4 linked regions of the Homo sapiens genome follow. The protein of the gene in region 2 binds, or shares a complex with, the protein of the main gene of each other region. Each region holds a gene or a part of one and is shown on either strand. Other genes may lie near its edges.

Region 1 (7,031 bases), on a different chromosome or scaffold from region 2:
ATCTCAGCCAGATGTGGTGTCTCAACACCTGTAATCCCAGCACTTTGGGAGGCTGAGGTGGGAGGATCCCTTGGGGCCAGGGGTTTAAGACTAGCCTGGGCAACATAGTGAAACCGCACCTCTACTTTAAAAAAAAAAAAAAAGAAAAAAGAAATAATTTTTTTTTAGCTTCACTTCAGTCTCTCAGAAATAATTTTATCTCAAGAATGTCTTCAAATTTCTTATTTTAAAATAAGCATTAAAAAAATTGATGAGTCATTAAAGTAAAACAGTAGTATTGTTAAATTTTAGATAGAAATTTCTGCCCCTTAAGATAAATAGATTCTGAACAAGCTAGCTTTCCAAAGTTAGGAAAACTCAATAAGAAATTGAAGTCATGTTTTCAATGTACGTATTTTGGTTTCAGACAGTAAAGACTCTGCCATGACAGAAGTTATTAGCATACTTTCTGCCTCCTGTCTCCTTATCCTGTTGCCTCCAGATTTTAGTTGTTTATTAATTTTGGTTTCTAATGCTTCATAACATTTGATTTAATTCTGCAGTCATAATTTCCGGAGTTCCCAAGTATCAGCTCTGTACTTTTGAGTGTGCCTTTTCTCTAGGGCTTCAGAATTTCTTTTGCAGCTAAGGAGTGAACTGATTGTGCTCACTGTCTTGCAGAGCTGTTCCTTTGGGTACCATGCTGGTGGCTGGGGCAAACCTCCAGTGGATGAGACTGGGAAACCGCTCTATGGGGACGTGTTTGGAACCAATGCTGCTGAATTTCAGGTATGGGCCATGTACTAGCGATCTTGGTTTTACTTAATGTCATGAAGGTTAGATTGTTGGTTTATAGCTTCATTATCAGGGAGTTGTGTGTTCTGACACAGCAGAGCCTGGAAAAGGGCATACATTTTCCTGAGATGTTAATGTAAGCTCCTCACTAGAATTTGAGCTCTAGGTAGGTAGGGATTATTGTGTTTTGACTCTTACACCCCTTCAGCTTAAAACAGCCTGGCACATAATAGGTACTTAGAAAACATTTGTTGAATGATAAAGTGATCTCTTTCAGACCAAGACTGAGGAAGAAGAGATTGATCGGACCCCTTGGGGGGAACTGGAACCATCTGATGAAGAATCCTCAGAAGAAGAGGAAGAGGAAGAAAGTGATGAAGACAAACCAGATGAGACAGGCTTTATTACCCCTGCAGACAGGTGGGGGAAGCAGAGAATGCCTCTTGGAAGTGGGCTATCTTTGGGGTCCTTCTCTTTACTCCAGAGCTTGTTCCTCTCTTTACAGTGGCCTTATCACTCCTGGAGGCTTTTCATCAGTGCCTGCTGGAATGGAGACCCCTGAACTCATTGAGCTGAGGAAGAAGAAGATTGAGGAGGCGATGGACGGGTAAGGGTACCAGACAGGGCTGAGAGGGGAGGACCTTCACTTCCCTTTGGCTGGCTGGCTGACTGTTGTTCCTTTCTCCCTCATCCTTTTTTAAACAATTATTGAACCAACTCTCTGCCAGGCACTACTGTAGGCAGTGAGGAGTCAGCAGTTGAGGTAAACTGGTAATCAGAGAACAAGATACTTTCAGATGTAGATAAGGATGTTGAAGCAGAGGAAACTGGGTAATGGGATGGGGTGGCAGGGAGGCCTTTGGGAAGGCCTCACTGGGGAGGTGGTGCTTGAACTAAGACCCGAATGAAAAAGCGCCAGCCACAGGATCATCTGGGTCAGAAGTAACAGTAAATGCAAGCAAGTGCAAAGGCACTGAGACAGGGATGGGCTAGTATTTTGAAGCTCCATTTTTAGGTAGTTGAATGTGTAGTGTTGTTAGGTCTTCATGAATTGACCCCTTTATCATGAAATGACCCTCTCTTTATCCATTCTGCTCTTTGTTCCCTTTTTCCTGTTTTTCTACCTTCTTTTGGATTACTTGAACAATTTTTATGATTTCATTTTATCTCCAGTGTTGGTTAATTAGCTGTTAAGTTTTTGCTTTGTTATTTTAGTTGTTGCTCTGGGGTTTATAGATCATGTCTTTATCAGGATCTACCTTCTCTTGATGTTACACTGCTTCCAGATAGTATTAAGAGCCATTATAGTATACTTCATTTCTCTCCTCCCAATTTTTGCACTATATTGTCATATATTCACTTTTACATATGTTATAAATCCTATACTATATAGTTATTATTTTTGTTTAAATGGTCAGTTATCTTTTAGGGAGGTTTAAATAAGAATCATGCATGAAGCCATGTAGTTACCATTTTTGTTTCTTTCATTTCTTTGTGTATATCCAGGTTTCTATCTGATATCATTTTTCCTCTGCCTGAAGGGCTTCCTTTAACATTTCTTAAGTTAGGGGGCGTGGTGGCTTAAGCCTGTAATCTCAGTACTCTCAGTACTTTGGGAGAAGGCTGAGGTGGTAGGATTGCTAGATTCCAGGAATTTGAGACCAGCCTGGGCAACATAGTGAGACCCCATTTCTACAAAATATTAAAAAAACATTTCTTGTATTGTGGGTCTGCTGGTTTTGAATTTGTTCTGCTTGAGTAGTCTTAAAAATTCTTTATTTGGCCTTCATTTTTGAAAGATCTTTGCCAGGTTTAGGATTCTAGGTTGACAATCTTTTTTCTTTCAACACTTTTTTTTTTCTTCTTTGAGATGGAATCTTGCTATGTCGCCCAGGCTGGAGTGTAGTGGTGTGATCTTGGCTCACTATAACCTCCACCTCCTGGGTTCAAGCGATTCTCCTGTTTCAGCCTCCCGAGTAGCTGAGATTACATGTGCATACCATCACACCCAGCTAATTTTTATATTTTTAGTAGGGATGGGGTTTTGCCATGTTGGCCAGGCTGGTCTCGAGCTCCTGGCTTCAAGTGATCCGCCTGCCTTGGCCTCCCAGCTTGTTGGGATTACATGTGTGAGTGACCGCATCAGCCTTCTTTCAGTACTTTTAAGATGTTGCTCCAGTGTCTTCTTTCTTGCATTGTTTCTAGTGAGAAAACTGCTGTCATTCTTACCTTTGTTCCTGTGTACATAATGTGTCATTTTTATTTGGCTGTTTTTAAGATTTTATCACTAGTTCTAACAATTTGACTACAATGTGCCTTGGTGTAGTTTCTGAATGTTTCTTTGCTTGGGGTTTTTTAAGCATCTTAGATCTGGGTTTTTAGTTTTTATTAATTTGGGGAAAATTTTGTCATGATTTCTGCAGATATTTTCTCTGTTCCCTTCTCTTTCCTTTGGGAACTCAAATTATTCCTCTATTAATGAAATAATAAATGAAAAAATAAATGAAGAGCTCACTGATGCTCTTCATTTTTAAAGAAATTCTTCTCTCTTTGTATTTCACTTTAGAAAATTTCTATTGCTATATGTTCAAGTTTACTATTATTTTCTTCTGTAATTTCTGATCTAACAGTAATCCCATACAATATAATTCTCCTTTCTAGAAGTTTGATTTCGGGTCTTTTAAATCTATTCTTTCTCTCTTAACTTTTTGAACATGTGGAATGCAGTTATAACAATATTTTATTTTTATGTTATTTTATTTTATTTTATGACGGAGTCTTGCCCTGTTGCCTAGGCTGGAGTGCAGTGGCGTGATCTCGGCTTACTGCAACCTCTGCCACCCAGGTTCCAGCAATTCTTGTGCCGCAGCCTCCCAAGTAGCTGGGACTATAGGCGTGCGCCACCCCACCCAGCTAATTTTTTTGTATTTTTAGTAGAGACAGGGTTTTACCATGTTGACCAGGCTGTTCTTGAACTCCTAACCTCAGGTGATCTGCCTGCCTCGGCCTCCCAAAGTGCTGGGATTACAGGCATGAGCCACCACACCTGGCTATAACAACATTTTAATGTATTGTCTGCTAACTCTAACATCTGTGCCATTTCTGGGTTGACTGCCATTAGTTGATTCATTTTCCTCATTATGGATTGTATTTTCCTACTCTTTTGCACGCCTGGTAATTTTTTTTTCTTTTCCTTTCTTTTTTTGAGAGAGGTTCTCACTGTGTTGCCCAGGCTGGTCTTGAACTTCTGGGCTCAAGCAATCATCCTGCCTCAGCTTCCCAAAGTGCTGGGATTACAGGTGTGAGCCATCAGGCCTGTCCAGTGCCTGGTAATTTTTTATTGAATGCTAGGCTTTGTGAAATTTACCTTGTTGGGTCCAAGATATTTTTGTATTCCTGTACATTTTCTTCAGCTCATTCGGGAATATAGTTATATGGAGATAGTTTGATCCTTTCAGGTCTTGTTTTGGGGTTCTTGAGGCAGGACTGAAGCAGTCCTCCCCATTGTGAGGCACAAGTACCTGTGTACTCTACCCACCACCCTGTGAATCAGGAGGTTTTTCCGGCTGGCTAGTGGGAGTTACTCTATTCCCAGTTCTGAGTGAGCAGCAGTTGCTGTTATGAATCCTTTTGGGTGCTTCTTTCCCTGTCCTTGGTAGGCATGTGCTGCTTAGTACTCCCCTGCATACTTGAGGACCTTCTGTAGGTCTCGAGTTCTCTCTCTGCTCTTTTCTCCAGTACTCTATCCTGTGAACTCTAGCTGCCTTGATCTCCCTGGACTTTCAGTTTCATCCTCCCAACTCACGGAGTCCTCAGGGCTCTCCATGAGTCTCCCCTCTGTTCTGTGGCCTGCAAACTCTCAGGTGTGGTATGCTGGGGCAGTTGAAGGGCTCATCACATTTGTTTCCTGTCTCGCAGGAATCACTGTGCTTTGTTGCCCCATGTGTAGTGTCTTGAAAACCACTGTTTCATATATTTTGCCCATTTTTTTTGGTTGTTTCAGGCAGGAGGGTGTATCTGGTTCCTCTTGCTCCTTGTCAGGAAGCAGAAGTCTCAAGCTTTGCATATTCAAGGAAGAAAAATAAAGAAGGGTACTGTGGACAGAGTATAGTGAGGAGGGCTTGGGTAAGGGACCAGGCTATGAACCCTTTAGGTCATGGTAAGGAGTTTGGATTTTATTCAGATAATGATCAGAAGCCTCAGAGGGTTTTGAGCAAAGGTCTGACAGGACCCGACATCCGTTTTAAGGTATTTTCTCTGGCTCCTGTGTGGACAATAGATTGTCACCTCTTCCAGCGGGAGAGGTGGAGATGATGGGCATAGTCTGGGGTGATAGTGGTAGATTTGCTCTTGTTCCTAGTGTAATCCTTGAAATTAGTGGTGAAACTGGCTGTGGATGGCTCTTGCGTTGGAAGGCCTGGAAGTGTGAATTACATACATGAGAACTCCAGGCATGACATTCTTCGGGTGGGAACTGTTGTCGCCTGCTCTATCTTGCCAGCTTCTCTGTACCAAAGTTCTTTTGGAAACTTTGAGCCTCTCTGACCTTTTGACCCTTATGTGCATGTGGGAGTCCTGGTCTGTGATCCCTTGACTTGATTCAGGGGGCCCCTTAGCTCCATCTGTGTTCCCTGGAGTCAGCACTGTGCCACCCCCCCGCCCAATTCTTTTCTGTCATGGGCAGAACTGCAGAGGCTGCATCCTTGGGGAGCTCAGAAGCTCTCCAAGGCGCTGAGTGGAGGTGCCACCTGTATCTTTTGTTTCCGCTTCTGGAGACCCTTTTGTCCCTTGCTTTTTGGGCCTGATCCCATTGTCCTTCGCAGAAGTGAGACACCTCAGCTCTTCACTGTGTTGCCAGAGAAGAGAACAGCCACTGTTGGAGGGGCCATGATGGGATCAACCCACATTTATGACATGTCCACGGTGAGTACTTGGAGGATACTGCTTTTGGAGGCTGAGAAAGGCAGCAGAAGCTAGGGCTTCTCTGACTCTTTGGAGATGACCAGGCCCTGATCTCCTTTCCAGGTTATGAGCCGGAAGGGCCCGGCTCCTGAGCTGCAAGGTGTGGAAGTGGCGCTGGCGCCTGAAGAGTTGGAGCTGGATCCTATGGCCATGACCCAGAAGTATGAGGAGCATGTGCGGGAGCAGCAGGCTCAAGTAGAGAAGGAGGACTTCAGTGACATGGTGGCTGAGCACGCTGCCAAACAGAAGGTAGGCGCTTCCAGGGGCGCTGGGCTGGGTGAGAGCCAGGGACCCTGGCCTGCCGTTTTCAGTGGCATGGTGCCCTCTAGTGGTGAGAGTGAGGGTGGCCTCTGCTTGCTGCTCTGTGCTTCCTTAGATTTGGAAGTCTTAGAAATCCTCCAGTGGGCTGCCCTCTTTAAGGACGATGAGGGGGAGGAACTCAGCCAAGTCTGAGAGGGAGCTCGAAGAGAATTCAGATTCAGCGCCTTTCCCACAGACTTCTATGTCTATGTCAGGCTGCCCACCCTTGTTTTGGGGGTCCGGGGGTGGTTCAACCTGTCTTAACCTGTGTCTCTTTCTCCCTATACAGCAAAAAAAACGGAAAGCTCAGCCCCAGGACAGCCGTGGGGGCAGCAAGAAATATAAGGAGTTCAAGTTTTAGGTCCCCTCACACTAGCCCTTTTTTTGGCCCTACGTCTGGATGCCTGGGCTTCACACAAGAACCACCTCTCCCGCAGTTCCCAAGGACTTGTCATTTCATGTTCTTATTTTAGACCTGTTTTGTAAATAAAGCTGTTTCCCAAGGAAAGAGATGAATATTTAACACTCCTGAGCCTCCCTCATCTCCTTTTAGCCCCTTCTTGCAAAAGGACTAAAATAGTCTCTTTCTACAATCACTGGGCTGCCCCAGTAACCACGAACATAAACTGGGATTAGACGGCGCATTTGACTGGTGGTGACGCCAACCCCAGGCTGAAATCTGTGTTTCACCACTGCCCTGCTTTGTAGGAAGGCTTGGGGGAAGTACCTCTAGGTCTGGTTTGACCTTACTACTTTGTCCTTGGGGAGTAAAAATAGCCAGATTAGCGCCCTAGCGCGGCAGAGGAAGTAACAGTGGGCTTGGGAAGTAGGCCAGGGCAGGCCTTCCCAACTGACCTTGTGACCAGAAGTTCAAGTCCTTACCTGTGCGACAACATAGCTCAAAAGCTAAATTGTCTTGAGTCCATATGAACCCTTGGGTTCAAGCAACACTAGTCGCTGGGGTTTGGGATTTGTATGTGGGATGGGGGGACTTA
Region 2 (7,839 bases):
GGCTAACATGGTGAAACCCCGCCTCTACTAAAAATACAAAATATTAGCCGGGCGTGGTGGCGGGCGCCTGTAGTCCCAGCTACTCGGGAGGCTGAGGCAGGAGAATGGCGTGAACCTGGGAGGCGGAGCTTGCAGTGAGCCAAGATCGCGCCACTGCACTCCAGCCTGGGCAACAGAGCAAGACCCCGTCTCAAAAAAAAAAAAAAATAGTTAACTGTCTGACTCCAATAAGAACACAGAACCCAGTTTTCCACTGCCTCTACCCAGGCCAGCAGCCATCACCTCTGCTCATTATCTTGGGGCCACATGGGGGAAAGGTATCACCTTGCCTCTGTTGGCACTGTCCTTACTTACTTGTGTTTGTGGTTAGGTAAGACAGGAATGATGGAGGAGTCTAGGGAGGAACTTATAAGGAACCATTCAAGACTCACCCATTTTCCCCTTTTTTCAGCTTCTGAGCAGCAGCCTTCTTGGACAGGCTGATCTGTGAATCAAGCTTCTTAAGGAAATCAGAGGCAGAGAGGTCATGGATGGGCGTGGGGGTTTCCTGGCCAGGTGTGGGGAGGACTTCACCATTGGCACGTCCTGCTCCTGTCTCTTGTTTCTTCCTCTCAGTTGAGTGTGGCCAAACTTCACTGTTACTTGGGTGTACTTTTTCCTCTCCATCTTTCTCTTCCTCAGAGTCCAAACCATTGAACAGGTCTCTGGGCTCTGTCAGGATGGGGATGTAGAGGGTTTTCTTCAGGAAGATGGAGTCATTAGTATAAAGGCGGTTTGCACGTTTAATCTGTTCCATCTTAAAAAAAAAAGTCACCAAAATTAAGGACAGTAATAATGATCAATCTTACATCTTGAGCTTTTTAAAGTGACTGTACAGAGTCTTCTTTGATTCCATAACAACCAAGCTAAAGTACAAAGGGCTGACATTATTTCTATTCTATAGATGAGTGGTTTTCACACTTTTTGGTCTTAGGGCCCCCTTACATTTTAAAAAATTATTGTGCAAGCCAGGCGCAATGTCTGATGCCTATAATTCCAGCTACTCAGGAGGCTGAGGAGGGAGGATAGCTTGAGCCCGGGAATTAGAGTCCAGCCTGAGTAATATAGTGAGACGCCATTTCTAAAAATTAAAAAATTAAAAATAAATGAATAAATAAATTAATGAATAAATAAAAATGAAGGAACTGAGGCTCAGAGAGGTTAAGCTACTTTCCTAAAATTATCTATCAAGTTAATGACAGAGCTAGAATGACAATCCTGGGTCTTTTCACTGCTTCTGAGAATGCTTTTCACACTATACTATTAACAATGTCATTAATAAATATTTATTTTGACCTATTTATTCATCACTGGACATAGTGACTGGCATCACCATCTATCTGCCTGGCCTCCCAAGGTAGAAACATCAATGTCATCCTTAACTAATACTTGCCTTTCATCACCATACCAAGTGGTCAACAAAACTGCTTCAAAAATCTCTCTCACATCTGGTCTCACCTTCCTACTGCCAAAGATTTAAAATAGACCCTCAGTATTTCTCATCTGGGGTTATTGCAACAGTTTAACTGGCCTTCCTCGCTCTATTTCTACTCATCCTCCTCTTGGCATCTATCTTTCTAAAAAAATAAATCTGATTAACCCACTACCCACCTATGGCTCCGCACTGGCTAAAAGATAAAAACCAAATTAGCATTCAAGGGCTTTCTCAATCCAGCTCCCAAAGGAAATGTCTAGATTAATCTCCCTCTGCCACCTCTACATTTTGCTATCCTGAACTTTTTATTTTTCTTTGAACATTCCATGATCTTTTTCACACTTTATTCATGCTGTTACTTCTGCCTGAAATGCTCCCACCCCCCTACTATCCCATTCTCTGCTTGGAAAACTTGTATTCATCAACTATCACTCCCTTTGTGCTACCTTCTTCAGGGCTCCCAATGCATACTGTAAATATTGCTATAATAATACATAACCCTACTATAATATTATTCACCTCTTTAAATATCTGCTTTGCCTAAACCCTATAAGTCCTTTAAGGGCAAGGATTGTGACTTGCTGTCTCTGTATCCCCAGGAAGTCATTAGCATCCTACAGACCTTGACACATAGCAGGGGCTCATTAATGCTTTATTTAAAAACTATTACTTATAATTATGTAATTATTATCATAATTAGATAATGAAATATAGAAACTACAGATATAGTGTATTCGTATTTTCTTTCTTTCTTTCTTTCTTTTTTTGGAGACAAGGTCTCACTCTGTCGCCCAGCCTGGAGTGTAGTGGCGCGATCTCGGCTCACTGAAACCTCCGCTTCCCCAGCTCAAGTGATCCTCTGCCTCAGCCTCCCCAGTAGGTGGGATTACAGGCACATGCCACCATGCCCGGCTAATTTTTGTATTTGTTGTAGAGATGGGGTTTCACCACATTGCCCAGAATGGTCCTGTACTCCCGAGCTCAAGCAATCCACCCACCTCAGCCTCCCAAAGTGCTGGGATTACAGGCATGAGCCACCACGCCTGGCCCACCACAGCCCCTTTCCAACTGAAATTTAATCTTTTCTGATTTCCTATCTTTGTGTGTGTGTGTGTGTGTGTGTGTGTGTGTGTGTCTCACTCTGTTGCCCAGGCTGGAGTGCTGGAGTGCAGTGGTGCGATCTCAGCTCATCGCAACCTCCCCCTCCTGGGTTCAAGCGATTCTCCCGCCTCAGCCTCCTGAGTAGCTGGGATTACAGGTGAGCACCACCACGCCCGGCTAATTTTTGTATTTTTAGTAGAGACAGGGTTTCACCATGTTGGCCAGACTGGTCTCGTACTCGTAACCTTAGGTGATCCACTTGCCTCTGCCTCCCAAAGTGCTGGGATTACAGGGGTGAGCCACCATGCCTGACCCCTATTCGTTGTTAATACCTTTACAAACTCACCACATTCTGTCACTTGTAATCATTATTTGTGTCCCTGTTCATTTCTCATTAGGCCATAAATTACATGAGGACAGCAACCATATAGTTTAAGTTTCTATCTCCCAGAAAAGTTATCACAGTGCTTTAAATACAGCAAGCATAAAAATGTTGGCTAAATTCAACATTTGTTTGAGTGAGATGGAACAAGAAAACAGGGGCAGGGATAGGGGGAGTAACCCCATCAACTTCAATGCTGTACATTTTTACATCTATCCAATTTCCCCCATGCATGACCTGAAATACTTGGTGTAGAGTACCTGTTTTGCACAAAGGAGGCCACCTTACTGGAAAGAAGGCAGAGCATTGAGGAGGAACCAAGAGCAAGGAGAGGTGGGCACTTTAGGAACTGAGAACTAAAAATCAGCTCTCCATTAGTTGCTGTAAACGTTTAATCACTCTCAACATAAAATTTTCTGTGTGGTTAATAGAGTCAGACAGACCTGTTTGAATCCCAAATCTGACGCTCATTATTTGACCTTAGCCAAACTGGTTAACCAATCCAAGTCTCAGTTTCTTCATCTGCCAAAAGGGAACGATAAATGTATACTTGATACAGATGTGAGGGTGAAATGAGCTAACGTATGTGAAGCCCTCAGCACAGTGTCTGGCATAATAAAATAGGAGCTGTTCCTCTCCGTTGGAATAGTAGGGCAGGACTTGTGCAACACTGTGATGGGAAAACAAAGATAAAGGCAGAACAGAGTGCAACACATTAGGAACATTTCAGGGGAGGTTACCTAGAAGGGCCACTACATTCTTCTCAGGACTAAATCCCTCCTGACTGTTGTCTTCACCCCAATCCTGGAAAACTCACCGTCACCCCATATTTGAGTGCTAGTCCAGCCAGGGTGTCTCCGGGCTCCAACTGATGCTCCAGGCGTCTTTCCCTCACTGGGGAGCAGGCCGATTGCACCAGGCTTCCATATGAACGAGCCCGGCTCCCTTGAAGCAGTCCTGACCCCCCTGGCGGGGGCTGTCTAGACGGGGAAGCCATCTCTTCACCCTGCCAACAGCTAAGGTTGCAACTAGGGGAGGTACGACCGAGACTGCGACTGACAGGCCTGAAGTCTGGGAATGAATATTCAGGGGATTCCTTTCCCCCTCTCTCTTCCCCTGTGTCCCCGCCTCCCCAGCACTACGCCATCTGCCCCCTCCCGGTTTCTCCTCCCTCCAAGCTACTTATCCACAAATCTGTCCCTTGAGTATTCAGTCCCTCCCTAATTCTCCCCTAAGCACCCCTCCGACTTTGGACTCCCCCACAACTCCTCGCTACATTGACCTCTGACCTTTGAACTCTAGAAATAATCCTCAACACTCTTTCCTCAGTTTGCCCCCAAGTAGCCTGGCCTCAGGGCGCTCCAACATCCCAGCTCTCCCCGGTCCCGGGGTTTGTTTGCTAGAGTCAGGAACAAATCAGGCCCACCCCAGGTGAACTGTCGCCGCAGACGAAGAGCGTGAGGATTGCAAGAATTTGTAGTACACCTTCCACTCAGAGATCCTCAAAGGTCCGCTCCGCATAAGATAGGTCACACCCTCAAATTTCGGCTCCACATCTAGGTTGTTGTCCCTCCAAACGCCTCAGATCCGCCAAGATGCAAGGGCCTGGATCCAGTTGAGCGGCAAGGTCTTTGAGAAAAGACTTCATTTCCCAAAAGGCTCCGCGTCTGCGGAGTCGCAGGGCACCATAGGAAATGCAGTTCCCTCCGAGCACCAGAGAGTGGATTTCCGGATCGCGCAATGCATGCGTGGAAGTGCGTCCCCGGAAGTACGGAGGCCGACAGGAAGAGAAGGAAAAAAGAGAAGGCGCTGTCCCGCTCTTGCTACGGTGGCCTGGAGGAGTGGCGAAACCGGAACAGAGAATTTATCACTTCTGGGACTCACAGTCGTGATGTCTTTCAAGAGGGAAGGAGACGATTGGAGTCAACTCAATGTGCTCAAAGTAAGCGTGAGCGGAGAGGATCTGGAGCCGCTTCAGTCGCTCCCTGAAGGTTGGGAAGGAGCTTTGTTTCATTGCTCTGGCAACAACTCGGGGGTGCAGGAGAGAACCAGGCGACTTAGAGCTGTGTAGTGACTCCTTTTTCGGTCTATGATCGCTGTTCTCCCCAGGGTCCTTATTCCATTTCACTCCTCATTTCTATAATTTCACTTCCACCCCTCTCTCCTATCCCGCTGATCCCGTCCGGATTTCTTCCCCTACTCCCTGCAGAAAAGAAGAGTCGGGGACCTCCTAGCCAGTTACATTCCAGAGGATGAGGCGCTGATGCTTCGGGATGGACGGTAAGAGCAAGGAGTGGCTCAAGCCTGAGGGTTCTGCGGTTAGAGGCTCAATAGACTTTTTTTTTTTTTTCCTTTGAGACGGAGGTCTCGCGGTGCTGCCCAGGCTGCCCTCGAACTCTAGGGCTCAAGTGATCCTGCCTCCTCAGCGTCGCGATTAGCTGGGTTTACAAGCGCATGCCACCACGCCTGGCTTCAACAAACTTTTGTTATTAATTAGGACAGCAGGAGTACCTAGGATTCTTTGGCGGCCAGTGAGGACTGGAAGAAGTGGAGATTGGGTCACCAGGGAGTTGGGTTTTGCAAAGACTGCTAGGACAGGGTGGGACCTATGGCAGGGACGGGCCCAACCCTCTTCCCCTGGACCACTTATCCTCTTCTCTACCCCTGCTCAGCTTTGCTTGTGCCATCTGCCCCCATCGACCGGTACTGGACACCCTGGCCATGCTGACTGCCCACCGTGCAGGCAAGAAACATCTGTCCAGTAAGTTAGGGGGAAGACGGGATGGGGAATAAACCCTCGAAATCTCTGCACACCACTCTTGGTGCTATGCTTTTAATTCTGTTTCCCTTTCTCCTCAGGCTTGCAGCTTTTCTATGGCAAGAAGCAGCCGGGAAAGGAAAGAAAGCAGAATCCAAAACATCAGAATGAATTGAGAAGGGAAGAAACCAAAGCTGAGGTAATCAGAGAGTGGAGAGTGTGTTCTAGGCAAGACCCTGCTGCACACACCAGGCTGGAAGGGCGGAGGGCTGAAGGCTCTGACTCTGTCTCCCATCTCCTTACCAGGCTCCTCTGCTAACTCAGACACGACTTATCACCCAGAGTGCTCTGCACAGAGCTCCCCACTATAACAGTTGCTGCCGCCGGAAGTACAGGTATGGGACGGGAAAGCCAGAGGTAGGAAGGCTCAGAAGGAGACAGATGGCTCTAAAAGAGTTTTCCAGTGTGTATTCTGAGGAATACTAGTGTTCTGGAGATGTTACTTAGTGTTTCAAGAAAAGGAGAATTTTGGCTGGGCGCGGTGACTCACGCCTGTAATCCCAGCACTTTTGGAGGCTGAGGTGGGTGGATCACTTGAGGTCAGGAGTTCAAGACCAGCCTGGCCAACATGGTGAAATCCTGTCTCTACCAAAAATGTAAAAAATTAGCTGGGTGTGTGGTGTGTGCCTGTAATCCCAGCTACTCAAGAGGCTGAGGCAGGAGAATTGCTTGAATCCGGGAGACAGAGGTTGCAGTGAGCCACGGTCACACCACTTCACTCCAGCCTGGGTGACAGAGTGAGACTCCATCTCAAAAAAAAAAGAAAAGAAAGAAAAAGAAAAGGAGAATTTTGTGATTTTTAAATAAAGTTTGGGAAATGGCACTTTGTAATTCTACTTGAAGAATAACAGTTTTAAAAACTATACAAAGTCTTAAGATTAAAAAAAACTTGTAAAATTTTAAGCTAGCCTTTCCCAAATTCATGATTCTGAAATCCTTTGTATGCAGAACTTATTAATATCTTGAGAAATATAGTTTAAGAAGCACTGTTTTAAGAGGTTGGGAGTCATAGGAGAGTTGGCCCTTTCCCTTACTGCTTTTACAGACTATTCTTCTCTACCTAGACCAGAAGCCCCTGGTCCCTCTGTCTCCCTTTCCCCTATGCCACCCTCAGAGGTCAAACTCCAAAGTGGGAAGATCAGTAGGGAACCTGAACCTGCGGCTGGCCCACAGGCCGAGGAGTCAGCAACTGTCTCAGCCCCTGCACCCATGAGCCCCACAAGAAGACGAGCCCTGGACCATTATCTCACCCTTCGAAGGTGAGTATGCCTAATCAGTTTCCTCAGATTTTCTTTTCTCTCTGACACCCTTGTTTCAAAGCTATTGTTTTTCCTTTTTTTTTTTTTGAGATGGAGTTTCACTCTTGTTGCCCCAGCTGGAGTGCAATGGCACGCTCTCGGCTCACTGTAACCTCCACCTCCTGGGTTCAAGCGATTCTCCTGCCTCAGGCTCCCGAGTAGCTGGGATTACAGGCATGTGCCATCACGCCCGGCTAATTTTGTATTTTTAGTAGAGACGGGGTTTCTCCATGTTGGTCAGGCTGGCCTCGAACTCCTGACCTCAGGTGATCCACCTGCCTCAGTTTCCTAAAGTGTTGGGATTACAGGTGTGAGCCACCGCACCCGGACTCCCATTGTTGTTTTCCATCTTTGGTTTCGTTTTGTTTTAGCCACCCAACTTACATGGCTCTCAATTTTTTCTCACTGCTAACTTTTTTTTTTTTTTTTTTTTTTTTTTTGGTAGAGACAGGGTTTCACTATGTTGGTCAGGCTGGTCTCGAACTCCTGACCTCAAGTGATCCACCTGCCTCGGCCTCCCAGAGTGCTGGGATTACTGGTGTGAGCTCACCACTAACTTCTTAATAAGCCTCTTTCCTGATCGATGCTATTTTCTCTGATGTTTCCAGCTCTGGATGGATCCCAGATGGACGAGGTCGATGGGTAAAAGATGAAAATGTTGAGTTTGACTCTGATGAGGAGGAACCACCTGATCTCCCCTTGGACTGATACCCTTTTCCCATTCATTCACAAATAAATTACAATGGGTGCTGAGAACTTAACTTTC
Region 3 (7,031 bases), on a different chromosome or scaffold from region 2:
TCTGTCTCAAAAAAAAAAAAAAAAAAAAAGAAAGAAAGAAACAAAAAAGAAAAGAAAATATTTAAGGCATATGCAATAGAATCAAAGGGACAAAATATATCATTCATCCTTTTCTTAGTCCTTGTTCACACCCTTCCCCCACTCTGACAGCTATTTCAAACGTTTGCCACTCTAAAAGCCTGGTTCTCTCTCAGCTGATGTCCACATCTTATATTTTATCCATTCATTACACAAACATTTATTGAATTTTCATTATATACTAGGTACCATGGTAGACACTACATGAAAATGAGTATGACACAGCACCTGTCCTGATGAACTCCCAGACTAGTGGAAGAGAGAGACATTTAAACAAATAAATTAAAAGAACAGCATAAACTCTGGTAGAAATACGCATGGGGTGTCATGGAAACAGAATGGGTATCTTAATCAGCTTGGGGGAGGTATGATAAAAAGGTGACATGAGGGTTGGGCAAGAATGATCAGTAAAGGCTCTGTGTTAACTACAGCACTGGGGATGGAAGGGCCAGAAAGGGTCTGGAGGTCATTTCAGAACAGAATGAGCAACAAGAACAAAGGCACGGAAATAAGAAGTGGCCTGGTATGTGCAGCAAACCAAAGGCAAACTGGTATGGCTGGAACCTGAAGTATGACAAAGGGAACAGCCATGAGTCAAAGTTGGAAAGGCGCAGAGGCCAATGCATAATGAGCTGCGTAGGCCATGGTAAAAAGCTTAGATTTCATCCAGAAACGATGGGTTTAAAGCAAGAACTTAAACTGCATTTCAAAGAGATCACTCTGGAGGGGATCTGGGGCAGGAAAATCACTGCAATGGTCCAGGCAACAGATGATGAAGGCAATGATAAAGAGGGACGGAAGAGAGAAGACACAGGAGGCAAAATTAGTAAGACTAATTAGCAGCACTAATTGATTAGGTACACAAGGACAAAGAAGGAGGAGGCAAGTTAGAGAGCACAAGAGTAGGAGCAGGCTTACAGTAGAAGCTGATGAGTTCAGCTTTGAATACAATGCATTTGAAATCTCTCAAGTCTAAATCAATAGAGAAATCCAACAAACAGCTAAATACACCAGACCAAGATGCAAATACTGATTTGGAAATCATGTACATATAGGTCATAGTTGAAAACATGACTAGGTAAGAATCAGCCAGAGGGAGCACATAGAGTGAGAACAGCTAAAAATTATGGATGGAGCCCTGGGAAAGACTTAAGAGGTGCACAGAGGAAGAGGAGTTTGCAAAGGTGGCCAAGAATGATCAGAGAAAAGAACCAGGAGTAGGGTGTCATGGAAAACAATACAGGGGTGAATTTCAAGGAGGTAGTGAGTGGACCTCAAATCCCTTTAATTACCATGCATTCTCTTGGTCTTCTTATCTAAACTTCTTAAAAAGCCTGTATTCACTATTTGTTTCCTCACTTTTCATTCACTCCTTAATACATTAGAACCTGGCCATTGTTTCACTACACAACGGAACTAGCCCTTTCAGGTCATCACTGACATTCCTTGTTGCCAAATCCAATGACTCCTCCTTCCTCTTCCCCAAATCAGCAAACAGGTCCCACCAGCTCACCCCTGACCACATCCCCACTTCCTATTCTCTTACTAACCATCCTTACTACCACTGCCTGCAAGTCGTAGTTCAGACACTCATTACTTTCAGCCTGAGCTACTGCAAAAGCCTTGTATCTGTTCTACTTCCAATCTTGTACCTTTCAAATCCTTCATATTACTGCTATAATGGATTTGTCTATCTAAAATGCAGAGCTGTTTTTAATCCTTCCGTGTCTCCCCTTTACCTCTAGGGTGAAGACCAAGCTCCTCAGATAGGCTTCCAGGGCCTTCTGTGATCACGGTCTGCCAACCTCTCTCATCCATCTCACGCTTTATGCTATCCAACAACAGCAAATTACTTAGGGACCCCCACCACCTGGTAACACCATGGTGTCTCATAGCCTTATGACTCTGCACATATAGGACCCTCTTCCTTTAATATCCTTCCTTTCCTTCTTATCTTGGCTGGTTACCAACATCCCTTAAAACTCAGCTCCCACATTTCATCCGTTAGGAAGCACTTCCTGATCACTCACATCCTCCTAAGGCTCAACTTACTCTTCCTTTGTGCTCCCAAAACATCTTGAAAATCTTCTATAGTAACACTAACCAAACAGCGTTGAAACTGTCTGTCTTCTATTCTAGATTGAAAGTGAGCTCCTGGGCTCAGGGGCTATCTCTCTTTAATCATGGAATCCCTAGTACCTACTACCTAGCTGCTTACACTTATAACATGTATGCTAAGACTTTCCCTTAAGGGATGAGTGGAGTGAGTAACAGAGGGCTTTAAGAAGGGAAGCTTGGCCGGACATGGTGGCTCACGCCTGTAATCCCAGCACTTTGGGAGGCCGAGGCAGGTGAATCACCTGAGATGAGAAGTTCGAGACCAGCCTGGCCAACATGGTGAAACCCTGTCTCTACTAAAAATACAAAAATTAGCTGGGCGTGGTGCTCACGCCTGTAATCCCAGCTACTCGGGAGGCTGAGGCAAGAGAATTGCTTGAACCTAGGAGGCGGAGGTTCCAGTGAGCCAAGATCGTGCCATTTTGCACTCCAGCCTGAGCAACAAGAGCGAAATTCCGTCTCAAAAAAAAAAGAAGGGAAGCTTATTATAAATGGCATCCTCTCCAACCTTAGAAGCATGGATGGTATTCCAAAGCACCAAGGAAACCACTGTTTTTTACCTTGGAAATAAGGTCTTAAGAGAGTTACACTAATATGATAATACAAAGGACATATGAATAACAAACACCAAATCCTAAGCAGAATCAGAAAACAAATTGCAGGAGAACTCACAGTGGAAAGAGCTTTGGACCAGAGAATCAGGAACGCAGAGTTCTAATTCCAGCTTTCTCAGGGAAATTGCATGACTCTAGGCAAACTGCTTATTTATTGGGCCTCAGTTTCTCTTTTTTTTGAGACGGAGTCTTGCTCTGTTGCCCAGGCTGGAGTGCAGTGGCACGATCTCGGCTCACTGCAAGCTCCGCTTCCCGGGTTCACGCCATTCTCCTGCCTCAGCCTTCCGAGCAGCTGGGACTACAGGCGCCCGCCACCACGCCCAGCTAATTTTTTGTATTTTTTTTAGTAGAGACGAGGTTTCACCATGTTAGCCAGGATGGTCTCAATCTCCTGACCTCGTGATCTGCCCGCCTCGGCCTCCCAAAGTGCTGAGATTATAGGCATGAGCCACCGCACCCGGCCCCGTTTCTCTTTCAATTAAGAGAGGCTGGGTAATTATCTTATGGGTTTTTCCAACAGATACTATATATCTGTTCCGGAAATATTCCCTTGCAGCAGGCCGAAAAGAGACAAAACTAGAAAAGATGATGAAAGATGAATAACAAAAAGAAAGCAAGGGTGACAAAGGGAAATAAGAGAAGAAATCTAGGATAAAATCAGAACAAGAAGTGGAAAAAAGCAACTGAGAAAAATGAAGACAAATTAAATACTAGTAAAAAAAAACTAGGTCAGGGAGAATTCTAAGTTTTGGGTCCAAAAATTAAAAAACAAAAAACAAAAACTCGGTAGCAGGGAACATCTGTAGGGTTGTGCTATAAAAAGATCTACTTCTGGCTGTATGTATGGCAAATGAGTGTTCTGAAAAATCCTCCTTCTACCAAAAAGCCTACATACAGTGAACTGCAAACGGAACTAGTAAGCTAGCCTGTAACCACAGCTACCCTAAAGATATCTGCCAAGATGAGGAACTACAGTCAACTTATAGATATCTGCCAATATCAGAAAGAAGAGCCTTAAATTTTTTTATTCTGGAGTTGGGGTCTCACTATGTTGCCTAGCCTGGACTTAAACTCCTGGGTTCAAGCGATCTTCCTGCCTCAGCCTCCCAAATAGCTGGTACTACAGACACACGCCACCACACCTGGCTGTTGGATTTTGACGGCACCCCGAGGGACAGAAGACAACGCCTTAGGCCCATATAAGGTGGGGAGACAGATTCTAGACATTGCAGAGTAACCCGAACAGACTAACCTATCCTCAGTTAGCAACTATAAAACCTAGACAAAACAAAAAAAATAGGTATTTGAAGGTGTGGAAGAGTGACCAAAAGTAAGTATGAACTGGATGAAGTCTATATGTGAAAAGAGATTTGCTGGAGGGCAACTTCCCAAACAGCATGGCTCATGAAGGCAGAAAGCCACAGGCTTACTGGCTTGAGGAATTAGTGCAAAGTGGGCAGAACAGCTAGGAAATTAGGGGGGAAATCTTGGAAGAGAAGGAACTACAAAAGAGATGAACCTCAAAATCTACATACAAACCCTAGTCAAATCCTTGGCTAACTGTTAAATGACACATGTGCAGAGAAAATACCATCAGGCCAATTAAAAAAATGGCAGCTAGAAACTAAAAGAACTGAGCAAAGATTGTAGCTGCCGTCCACTGCAAAGGAGACAGTTTGGAGTTCAGCTATGTTAACTACCTGCTAGAATAAAAACTAACACACTTAAGAGGAATACAGTGTAACAGAACTCAAAGTCTCTACAGTGTATCATTCATGATGCGTAGTAACAATTTTAAAAAGTGACCAGACAGGTAAATAAACAGGAAAATGTAATACACACTGAAGAAAAAGCTGTCAATAGAAACCAATCCTGTGGTGAATCCAATGTTGCAATTAGCAGACAGGACTTCAAAGCACTAATTACATATCATAAATATTTTCAAGAAGAGGAAAATGTCTCATAATGAACAGATGGGAAATCTCAGCAGAGAAATGTAAGCTATTAAATGGAAATTTTAGAGTTGAAAAACAAAATAAACCAGCTAAAACAAAAAATCCACAATTGATAGTAACTGATAGAAAAATACAAACACAAAAAACCCAGAATACAGGCGATCTAAGATCTAAACACCTTGACCTCACTGACTTTTATAAAACACTACCTTATATAGCTACAGAATATACGTTCTCTTCAAGTGCAAAGGAAACATTCAGAAGATAGACTATCCACTGGGCCATAAAACACACCTTAACAAATTTCATTTTTATTATTGTTTTTTGATACATGGTCTCACTCTGTCATCCAGGCTGGAGTGCAGTGGTGCAATCACAGCACATTGCAGCCTCGACCTCCCTGGGCTCAGTGATCCTCCCACCTCAGCCTCCACAGTAGCTGGGACTATAGGCGTGTGCCACCATGCCCGACTAATTTTTGTATTTTTTTGTAGAGACAGGGTTTTGCCATGTTGCCCAGGCTGGTCTCAAACTCCTAGGCTCAAGCAATCCGTCTGCCTTGGGCTCCCAAAATGTTGGGATTACAGGCATGAGCCACTGTGCCTGGCCAACAAATTTCAAAAGATCAAAATATTACAGTATATTATCTGACCAAAATGGAATTAAATTATAAGTAAATAGCAGTAAGATATCTAGAAAAGTCCAAATATTTGGAATTAATGCACTCCTAAATAACCCATGGAGCAAAGAATAAACCAAAAGGATAATTAGAAAATATTTTGAACAAAATCCAACATACATTCCTGAAAACAAAACTCTCAGCAAAACAGGAATAGAAGGGAACTTTAACTCCATAAAGGATATCTACAAAAAACCTATACAGCTACAACACATTTAATAAATGTGTTGTAAAAACTAAATGTTTTCTTCCTGAGATTAGGAACAAAGCAAAGATGTCTGCTCTCACTACTTCTATTCAACATCTGCACTGAAGTGCTAGCTAATGCAACAGGGCAAGGAAAAGAAACAAAAAGCATCTAGATTGTAAAGTAAGAAATTAAACTGTATGCAAAGATGGAAGACCCTCTAGGTACAAAATCTGATGGAATCTATAAAAAGCTATTGTACAAAGTGAGCTTTACCTGAAGGAAAACAACTGACAATACAGTGTAACAGAACTCAAAGTCTCTACAGTATATCATTCATGATGTCCAGTAACAATTTAAAAAAGTGACCAGACAGGTAAATAAACAGGAAAATGTAATACACACTGAAGAAAAAGCTGCCAATATAGAAACCAATCCTGTGGTGAATCCAATGTTGCAATTAACAGACAGGAAGGACTTCAAAGCACCAATTACATATCACAAATATTTTCAAGAAGAGGAAAATATCTCATAATGAACAGATGGGAAATCTCAGCAGAGAAATTAAGCTATTAAATGGAAATAGCTCAAGCAATGGAAATGCCAGTGATAACATTTAAACTTTCAAGTGTAAATTAGAATTCTGAAAAACTGTGAACTCTTTAACTTCCCATTATTTAAAGAGTTTTGTGATAAGACCGGAAGTGATGTTAACAAAAGTGATTTTCTGATATTGTATAGTGGAAATATGTCAACATTTGGAAGGTCTGAACAACTCAGCAAACCAATATTTTACAAATGACCAATGCATGATGTTATAAAATCATGCATGGGTAAAAGATCCACTCAAAGTATTAAAAAAATTAATATAACAGTAAGGAAAGTTCTTTGATCTGGTTTCAGGTTCCACATAGCTCACCTTTAAGAAACCAGCACTTGTTGAGTTTTTGTGTAACATTAAGAAATATAATATGCCTTCTCTTTCTAACTACCTATGTGTGAGGCTAAATTTTCTTTCTATACTTCAACTGAACAAATCACAACAGACAAATACAGAGTCAAGTTACCTATTATTAAGTCAGACATTAATGAGATTTGCAAAAATGTAAATCAATGCCATCCTTCTGTTTTTTCACTTGGAAAATGTAATTATTTTTCATTTAAATATACAGTAATTATGTTAACATAATTAGTTTATTTTTTTTTGAATGAATAAATACTTTTTAAATGTCTGAGTTTTAATTTATAATATGGTAAATATCAATATATATAATCCACATCAACAAAAGCTTTTTGAGGTCATCAGTAATTTTTAAGAGCGTAGGCCAGGCACGGTGGCTCAAGCGTGTAATCCCAGCACTTTGGGAAATCGAGGCAGACAATCATATGAGCCCAAGAAT
Region 4 (6,752 bases), about 120 Mb from region 2:
GGCAGGAGGCAGAGTAAATACGGGCTCTGTTCATTAAAGATCAGATGCAAGTACACAAAACCAGGTTCTTTTTTTTTTTTTTTTTTGAGACAGAGTCTTGCTCTGTCGCCCAGGCTGGAGTACAGTGGCGCAATCTCAGCTCACTGCAACCTCCGCCTCCCAGGTTCAAGTGAGTCTCTTGCCTCAGCCTCCCGAGTAGCTGGGATTACAGATGTGCATCACCACACCCAGCTAATTTTTGTGTTTTTAGTAGAGACGGGGTTTCATCATGTTGGCCAGGCTGGTCTTGAACTCCCGACCTCAGGTGATCCGCCTGCCTTGGCCTCCCAAAGTGCTGGGATTACAGGCATGAGCCACCGCGTCTGGCAAAACCAGGTTCTTTTAGAACTTATTTATCACCTCCTGGCTGCTATCCTTCTAGTAGGAAAAAAGTATTGTTACTGATAATTATTCTTTGTCATTTTCATGGAAGTAAGTAAACCTAAAAACACAGAAAAGGGGGGAAAAAAAAACAAGTGAGCAGCTTCTTGGAAGTTTAAATGAATTGTATTCTGTGGCCACATCATGCTCTATTCTGATTTATAGCAATCAAGCCTCAAAAAAAAGACAGCAATAAATCCAATCCACATGGCTCTTGTAAAAAGGCATCTATTTGGCTTTTAATACAAAATGATATAGAGAAATACAGAAAGAAAATATCATACAAGCCAGTTACAAAAAAAAAAAAAAAATCCCAACCAACAAATTTGTCACATTGGGCCTGCATTAGAAAACAGGAAAAAAGAAAAAGAAAAAAAAAAACAGTCCCTGAAATCTGGCAGGTGGTTTTTAGAGGCCACAGGGAGCTTGCCTTAGTCATCCTGGTGAAATGGGACAGAAGTGGTTTTTGGAATATGGCCACCGCCTCCTGTTTCTTGCTAGCAATGGTCATCTGAAGGGAGGGTGCTAGCCTGGACATCCAACATTTGGCATCACTTATGCAGTCTGAGGTCTCAAAGACAAGCGGCCTTGGAGTCTTCCAGTCCATATCTTCACTGAATCTCTCCCATATACAGTCTCTTGTCACTCGATGCTGAGATAACTGAGGTAAAAAGAACAGATAACTAGAAATAATGAAGGCTCAAGGAGACTTGGTGCTCAAGGGCTCTTGTGTCAAGAGCCAATTCTGGTATAAAAGAGCAATTGGACTTAGCTTAAATTCCCCTCCTAAACACCATCCACAGGAAATTGTAGCCTGGCTTTTCAATCCAAGTCCTCTAATATCATGAGGATGACTGTACTATGGGAAATACATTATCAGACACTAAATACTGACATCCCTTGTCAGTCAAACCCCAAGAAAAAGACTTTCCCAGTCATTCTAGAAGAGAGGAATCTATGGCTGTGCCAGTCATTTTGTAAATGTGCTTCTGCTTGTTATACTTAGCCCTGGAGAAAGTTACAGTTTCTCCTTTAATTCAAGGCTGAAATTATTTGGTTTAGCCAGCCAAAAAATTTTAAGCTGAAATTTATATCTAAATATTAAAAAGTATCATTCTTGGCCGGGCGCAGTGGCTCACATCTGTAATCCCAGCACTTTGGGAAGCTGAGGCGGGTGGATTACCAGAGGTCAGGAGTTTGAGACCAGCCTGGCCAACATGGTGAAACCTCGTCTCTACTAAAAACACAAAAATTAGGCAGGTGTGGTGGTGGGTGCCTGTAGTCCCAGCTACTTGGGAGGCTGAGGCAGGAGAATCGCTTGAACCTGGGAAGGCAGAGGTTGCAGTGAGCCGAGATCGTGCCACTGCACTCCAGCCTGGGCGACAAGAGTGAGACTCTGTCTCAAAAAAAAAAAAAAAAAGTATCTTTCTTTTAATCAAATACATCATTGAAACAGACTTGATGGAAGTAAATTTAAAAAAAAATTAGACTTACCAACTTCCCTTTGAGATCAAGAAGAAAATGGAGCATTGCTCTTACTCTCACCACTTATGAGCAATGGTGAGACTGACATTGATACCCACATAAAGACTGTTTGCAGCTGGGCACAGTGGCTCACACCTGTAATCCCAGCACTTTGGGAGGCTGAGGCGGGTGGATTACTGGACGTCAGGAGTTCGTGACCACCCTGACCAATGCGGTGAAACCCCGTCTCTACTAAAAATACAAAAAAAAAAAAAAATTAGCTGGGCATGGTGGTGGGTGCCTGTAATCCCAGCTGCTTGGGAGGCTGAGGCAGGAGAACTGCTTGAACCCAGGAGGCAGAGGTTGCAGTGAGCCAAGATTGCACCATTGCTCCAACCTGGGCAAAACAGCGAGACACTGTCTCAAAAACAAAACAAAACAAAACCCAACAACAAAAAAACCAACAACAACAACAACAAAAACACCCAAAGGCTGTTTGCATGGAAATTCGTATAAAACAGATACCCGCTTTTGACTCTCTATTCCCAGGATCCCTACGGGGAGATTTCCAGTTTCCCTTTCCCCCTCGTTGGGACAGACTTACTGATGGGCTCATCAGGGTGGAAAGCCACTTCATTGATGGAGCCAGCATGGCCGGGCAGCTTATACAATATTCTCCTGCTTGTGGTATCCCACACATAAACAAACCTGTAAGGTATCATGAAAAGCAAGGGTAAGTCCTCTTAGAGCTGGGGGTAGGACAGAGGCATGGCTTTTTAAAGGAAATGGAAGCAACAATTATTTACTTACCTTACATTTACTGAACCATGTTCTGGCTTTTAGAAACTAGGAACACAGAGTTTGAATAAGACATGGACTCACCTCTTGAGCAATGGGGTGGAGAAATAAGAATAACTAAAAATATAAGCATGACTGGCATGTTTGAATACAAGCTTCTGAAATGGGAAACACCACAGGGAAGAAAAGAAAGTTTTTCCTGCAGACATCACACAAAAACCTTTTTCAGAGTGTCTAGTATAATTAGGCTACAGTTAACTTCATACTCATCCAGGAAATCTAAAAGGTAACCCAACTCATGGCAGGGTGGGAGCCTAGGCTGCTGATCCAGATGAACTTTTTAGTACTGTATTCAAACAGAGACCTGAGAAGGGACAGGAAGTGTCTGGTATATAAAATATTTATAGTGTTTGCTAACCTAATACTCACTTGAGCCAACTTTTCCATTGAATTAACAGGCAGAAGGAATACTGAATTCTAGAATGGGAAGGGGCCAAGAGAAATCAGCTTGTCTAGGCTGGGAGTGGTGGCTCATGCCTGTACTCCCAACACTTTGGGAGGCCGAGGTGCGTGGATCGTCTTAGGTCTGGAGTTTGAGACCAGCCTGGCCAACAAGGTGAAACCCAGTCTCTACTAAAAATACAAAAAATTAGCCAGGAGTGGTAGCGTGTGCCTGTAATCCCAACTACTCGGGAGGCTGAGGCAGGAGAATTGCCTGAACCTGGGAGGTGGAGGTTGCAGTGAGCTGAGACCGTGGCACTGCCCTCTAGCCTGGGTGACAGAGTGAGACTCCATCTCCAAAAAAAAAAAAAAAAAAAAAAAGAGGAGAAAAAAGAAATCAGCTTCTCTAAACTCCTTATTTTAGAGATAAGAAAACTGGGGCACAGTGACGTTTCCAAGGCAATACAGTTCATCAACGGCGTAACTAAAATTAGAACTCTTCAAAAAAAAAGAGCTTATTAGAGAATGTTCTTAGGAAGACAAAATTTTTATTTGTCATTAAAAAAAATTATGAGGCTGGGCATGGTGGCTCACATCTGTAATCCTAGCACTTTGGGGGGCCAAGGCTTGAGCTCAGGAGCTTGAGACCAGCTTGGACAACATGGTAAAACCCCATCTCTACAAAAAAATTAGCCAGGTGTAGTGGTGCATGCCTGTGGTCCCAGCTACTTGGGAGGCCAAGGTGGGAGGACTGATTGAGTCCAGCACGTAGAGGCTGCAGTGAGCTGAGATGGCACCACTGCACCCCAGCCTGGGTGACAGAGTGAGATCCTGTCTCAAGAAAAAAAAAATTATGTTTTTTTTCATGCTGTATAATAAAGGTAATGTAAGAGGCTATAGAGTTTTAAGCTTCTTTCTACTGAAATACTCTGAATACTACTGAAATACTACTGAAATACTGAAATAACACAATGTACTTTCTGCAATGCTAGAATAAATAAAAAAAAACTTCTACATTTCTCTTCAAAAGTGATGAATAATAACAGAAGATGTCATAAAAATGTGATTTTTTCCTTATTCATTCTATAGTATTAGAGCCAGTATTTTTATCATCACAGGCCATAATTTTCACAAAAGTCTACATATTATCACAGAATCTTTTTGTTTTTCTCAATTAATTTTTTTTTTTTTTTTTTGTAGAGACAGTGTCTTCCTATGTTGTTAAGGCTGGTCTTGAACTCCTCGCGTCAAGCAATCCTCCTGCCTTCACCTCCCAAAGTGCTGGGATGACGGGCATGAGCCACCATGCGTGGCATATGGCACAATCTGTATGTATTTAGAGAGCCCCTGAAATCAACTCTGTTCCTAATCCTCTGAGCCAATGATGACTTTATAGCCTTATCAAACTGAAGTAAAACTTGAAGGGCAAGTTGAGTGAACTGCTGAGATTTTATGAGCTCATCTAGGCTCTCCTGAAGACTGTGTCCCAAAGTAGTACTTCTGTATAACTGATATGATATGGCTTAGGAAGAAGAAATTGTTTTTCTTATTCAAGCTTGCCTTGATGTCCTGTGCTGAAGGTTTCCTGCCATGGAGCAGACAGAAGTGACCAGGAGCCCAGCAGGGGGTTCCTATGTTCCTGACCACCTCTTCAGTAGCCACAGAAACTACAGAGCTGAACCCAAGACTCTGGAGCTCTTAATATACTCTCGTATTTTACTTTCACTTACCCTCCATAAATGTACTGGCTAAAAAAAAAAAAAAAAAAAAAAGTTCCTTTGACCCTCAATCTTGCTTAAGTCATTAAAGGGTAAAGTATAGAGCTATTATCTTAATCTGATGATGTAAAATTCATCTGTTGGTAAATATAAAGGGCTGGTAGTTTTGAAGCAGGTATTTAAAATTATTTACATATTTTGTTTTGTGCAATCAACAACTCACCAGTACTTGATCATAAAAATGGTACATTCACCAGTACTGGATTATAAAATGCCTAGTTCTAATCCAACTTACACTTTTGGTCAAAAATGCAAATAAACAAGAGCTTCTTAATTATACTATTTAGCTGTCATCAGCTAGGCTCCATAGAAAGTAAGTTCTGAACAAGATGGAAGAGAAGCAGGAACTCCATCTGTCTAGACTCCATGGCTCTGATACTCATGCCCTTCCTACTGTCTTCTTTCTTGTCATGCACAAAAAGCTGGTCCTCATTAATTCAATAAAGGGCAGTATGGCATAGTGAAAGAGTATGAGCTCTGGAGTCAGAAAGACTGGGGTTCAAGTCTCAGTGCAGCTATTTACTAGCTAAGTAAGCTTAGCTCAGAGAAGTTAAATAATTGCAGATCATTTAACTTCTCTAAGCTTCTTAGTTACAATGATGGAGAAAATATTGATCTCATAACTTTGTTGAGAAAAATAATGAGGTAATATATGCAAAGTGCCTGGCACACAGAATTAATTATAGCTATTGTTATTATAAGTACACTCATCATCAAAACAGAATCTCATGAAGTCAATGGGCTGAATAAATCACTCTTGGCCGAGAGACTGGTCAGCCTTCCCGTAGCCTATAGGACTATTCAGAGTTTCAAGTTTGAATATGAGGAGGTGATCTGTAAGTTATTAGTTAGTAGAAAGGAGAAGTTTGCCAAATCCAGGCCAAGCTGAAAAGGAGTTTTCTGAGGATACATTTCCCAGGCACATAAAAGACAGAATCCCAGATCTCCAAGGGTTTACACTTCAAGGTCTCACTCTTGATGGCTGCCAATTAGATGCTAAATTTAGAGGGGTTCCTTGCCCTCTCCTTACTTTGGCATGGCAACATTTGGCAGGAACCAGAAGCCTTATGTAACACAGCTGCTTCTTGACTTGGGGCCAATTGGTGAGGTGGCCTGTCAAATCTTGCCAACCCCCAGCAGGTAGAGAGGGATAGGCTTTCCTCATACCACGCTTTCACATGTGATTTTGTTTTTTTTTAAAGAGATGGGGTCTTGCTCTGTTGCCCAGGCTGGAGAGCAGTGGCATGATTGCAGCTCACTATATCCTCAAACTCCTGGGCTCATGGGGTCCTTCTGCCTCAGCCTACCAAGTAGCTGGGACTACAGGTGCACACTACTATGCCTGGCTAATTTTTTAAATATTTTTTTTATAGAGACAGGGTCCTGCCATCTTGCCCAGGCTGGTCTTGAACTCTTGGGTTCAAGCCATCCTTCCACCTCAGCCTCTCAGAGTGTTGGGATTAAAGGTGTGCACCATTGACCACATGTAAAGTTTAAAGGAACAGTGGAGAGGAAAAGAGAAAAAAAGGACATTGCAATTCAGAAAGGGCCAATGCCAGAAACAAACTGCTCATCAGAAAAAAAAAGTATGTAAATATAATTTAAAAATTTAATTACAGCTGGGTGCAGTGGTTCATGACTGTAATCCCAGCACTTTGGGAGGCCGAGGCAGGCGGATCATGAGGTCAGGAGATTGAGATCATTCTGGCTAACACGGTGAAACTCCATCTCTACTAAAAATACAAAAAACTAGCCAGGCGTGGTAGCGGGCACCTGTAGTCCCAGCTACTCGGGAGTCTGAGGCAGGAGAATGGTGTAAACCCAGGAGGTGGAGCTTGTAGTGAGCAGAGA

What was found.
Region 1: SCNM1 (region 2) and SF3B2 share a complex: the UniProt entries of both Homo sapiens proteins name them as parts of the minor spliceosome.
Region 3: SCNM1 (region 2) and BUD13 share a complex: the UniProt entries of both Homo sapiens proteins name them as parts of the minor spliceosome.
Region 4: SCNM1 (region 2) and SNRNP40 share a complex: the UniProt entries of both Homo sapiens proteins name them as parts of the minor spliceosome.

What each region holds. Positions count from the first base shown.
Region 1 is NC_000011.10:66,062,349-66,069,379, forward strand, and holds the end of SF3B2 (splicing factor 3B subunit 2), read left to right. Parts: intron 1-660; coding exon 661-768; intron 769-1,051; coding exon 1,052-1,194; intron 1,195-1,279; coding exon 1,280-1,381; intron 1,382-5,597; coding exon 5,598-5,697; intron 5,698-5,799; coding exon 5,800-5,985; intron 5,986-6,325; coding exon 6,326-6,397; 3' UTR 6,398-6,960; downstream 6,961-7,031. UniProt on the Homo sapiens protein: Component of the 17S U2 SnRNP complex of the spliceosome, a large ribonucleoprotein complex that removes introns from transcribed pre-mRNAs.
Region 2 is NC_000001.11:151,161,305-151,169,143, forward strand, and holds the start of SCNM1 (sodium channel modifier 1), read left to right. Parts: upstream 1-4,839; 5' UTR 4,840-4,848; coding exon 4,849-4,899; exon of another isoform or gene 4,900-4,948; intron 4,949-5,166; coding exon 5,167-5,237; intron 5,238-5,629; coding exon 5,630-5,718; intron 5,719-5,816; coding exon 5,817-5,914; intron 5,915-6,021; coding exon 6,022-6,110; intron 6,111-6,839; coding exon 6,840-7,034; intron 7,035-7,681; coding exon 7,682-7,781; 3' UTR 7,782-7,839. Other genes in the region: LYSMD1 (lysM and putative peptidoglycan-binding domain-containing protein 1), read right to left, coding at 432-796, 3,775-3,954; TNFAIP8L2-SCNM1 protein, read left to right, coding at 5,221-5,237, 5,630-5,718, 5,817-5,914, 6,022-6,110, 6,840-7,034, 7,682-7,781. UniProt on the Homo sapiens protein: As a component of the minor spliceosome, involved in the splicing of U12-type introns in pre-mRNAs. Plays a role in the regulation of primary cilia length and Hedgehog signaling.
Region 3 is NC_000011.10:116,748,973-116,756,003, forward strand, and holds part of BUD13 (BUD13 homolog), read right to left. Parts: intron 1-7,031. UniProt on the Homo sapiens protein: Involved in pre-mRNA splicing as component of the activated spliceosome. As a component of the minor spliceosome, involved in the splicing of U12-type introns in pre-mRNAs.
Region 4 is NC_000001.11:31,259,041-31,265,792, forward strand, and holds the end of SNRNP40 (U5 small nuclear ribonucleoprotein 40 kDa protein), read right to left. Parts: intron 2,593-6,752; coding exon 2,489-2,592; intron 1,082-2,488; coding exon 1,032-1,081; 3' UTR 528-1,031; downstream 1-527. UniProt on the Homo sapiens protein: Required for pre-mRNA splicing as component of the activated spliceosome. Component of the U5 small nuclear ribonucleoprotein (snRNP) complex and the U4/U6-U5 tri-snRNP complex, building blocks of the spliceosome.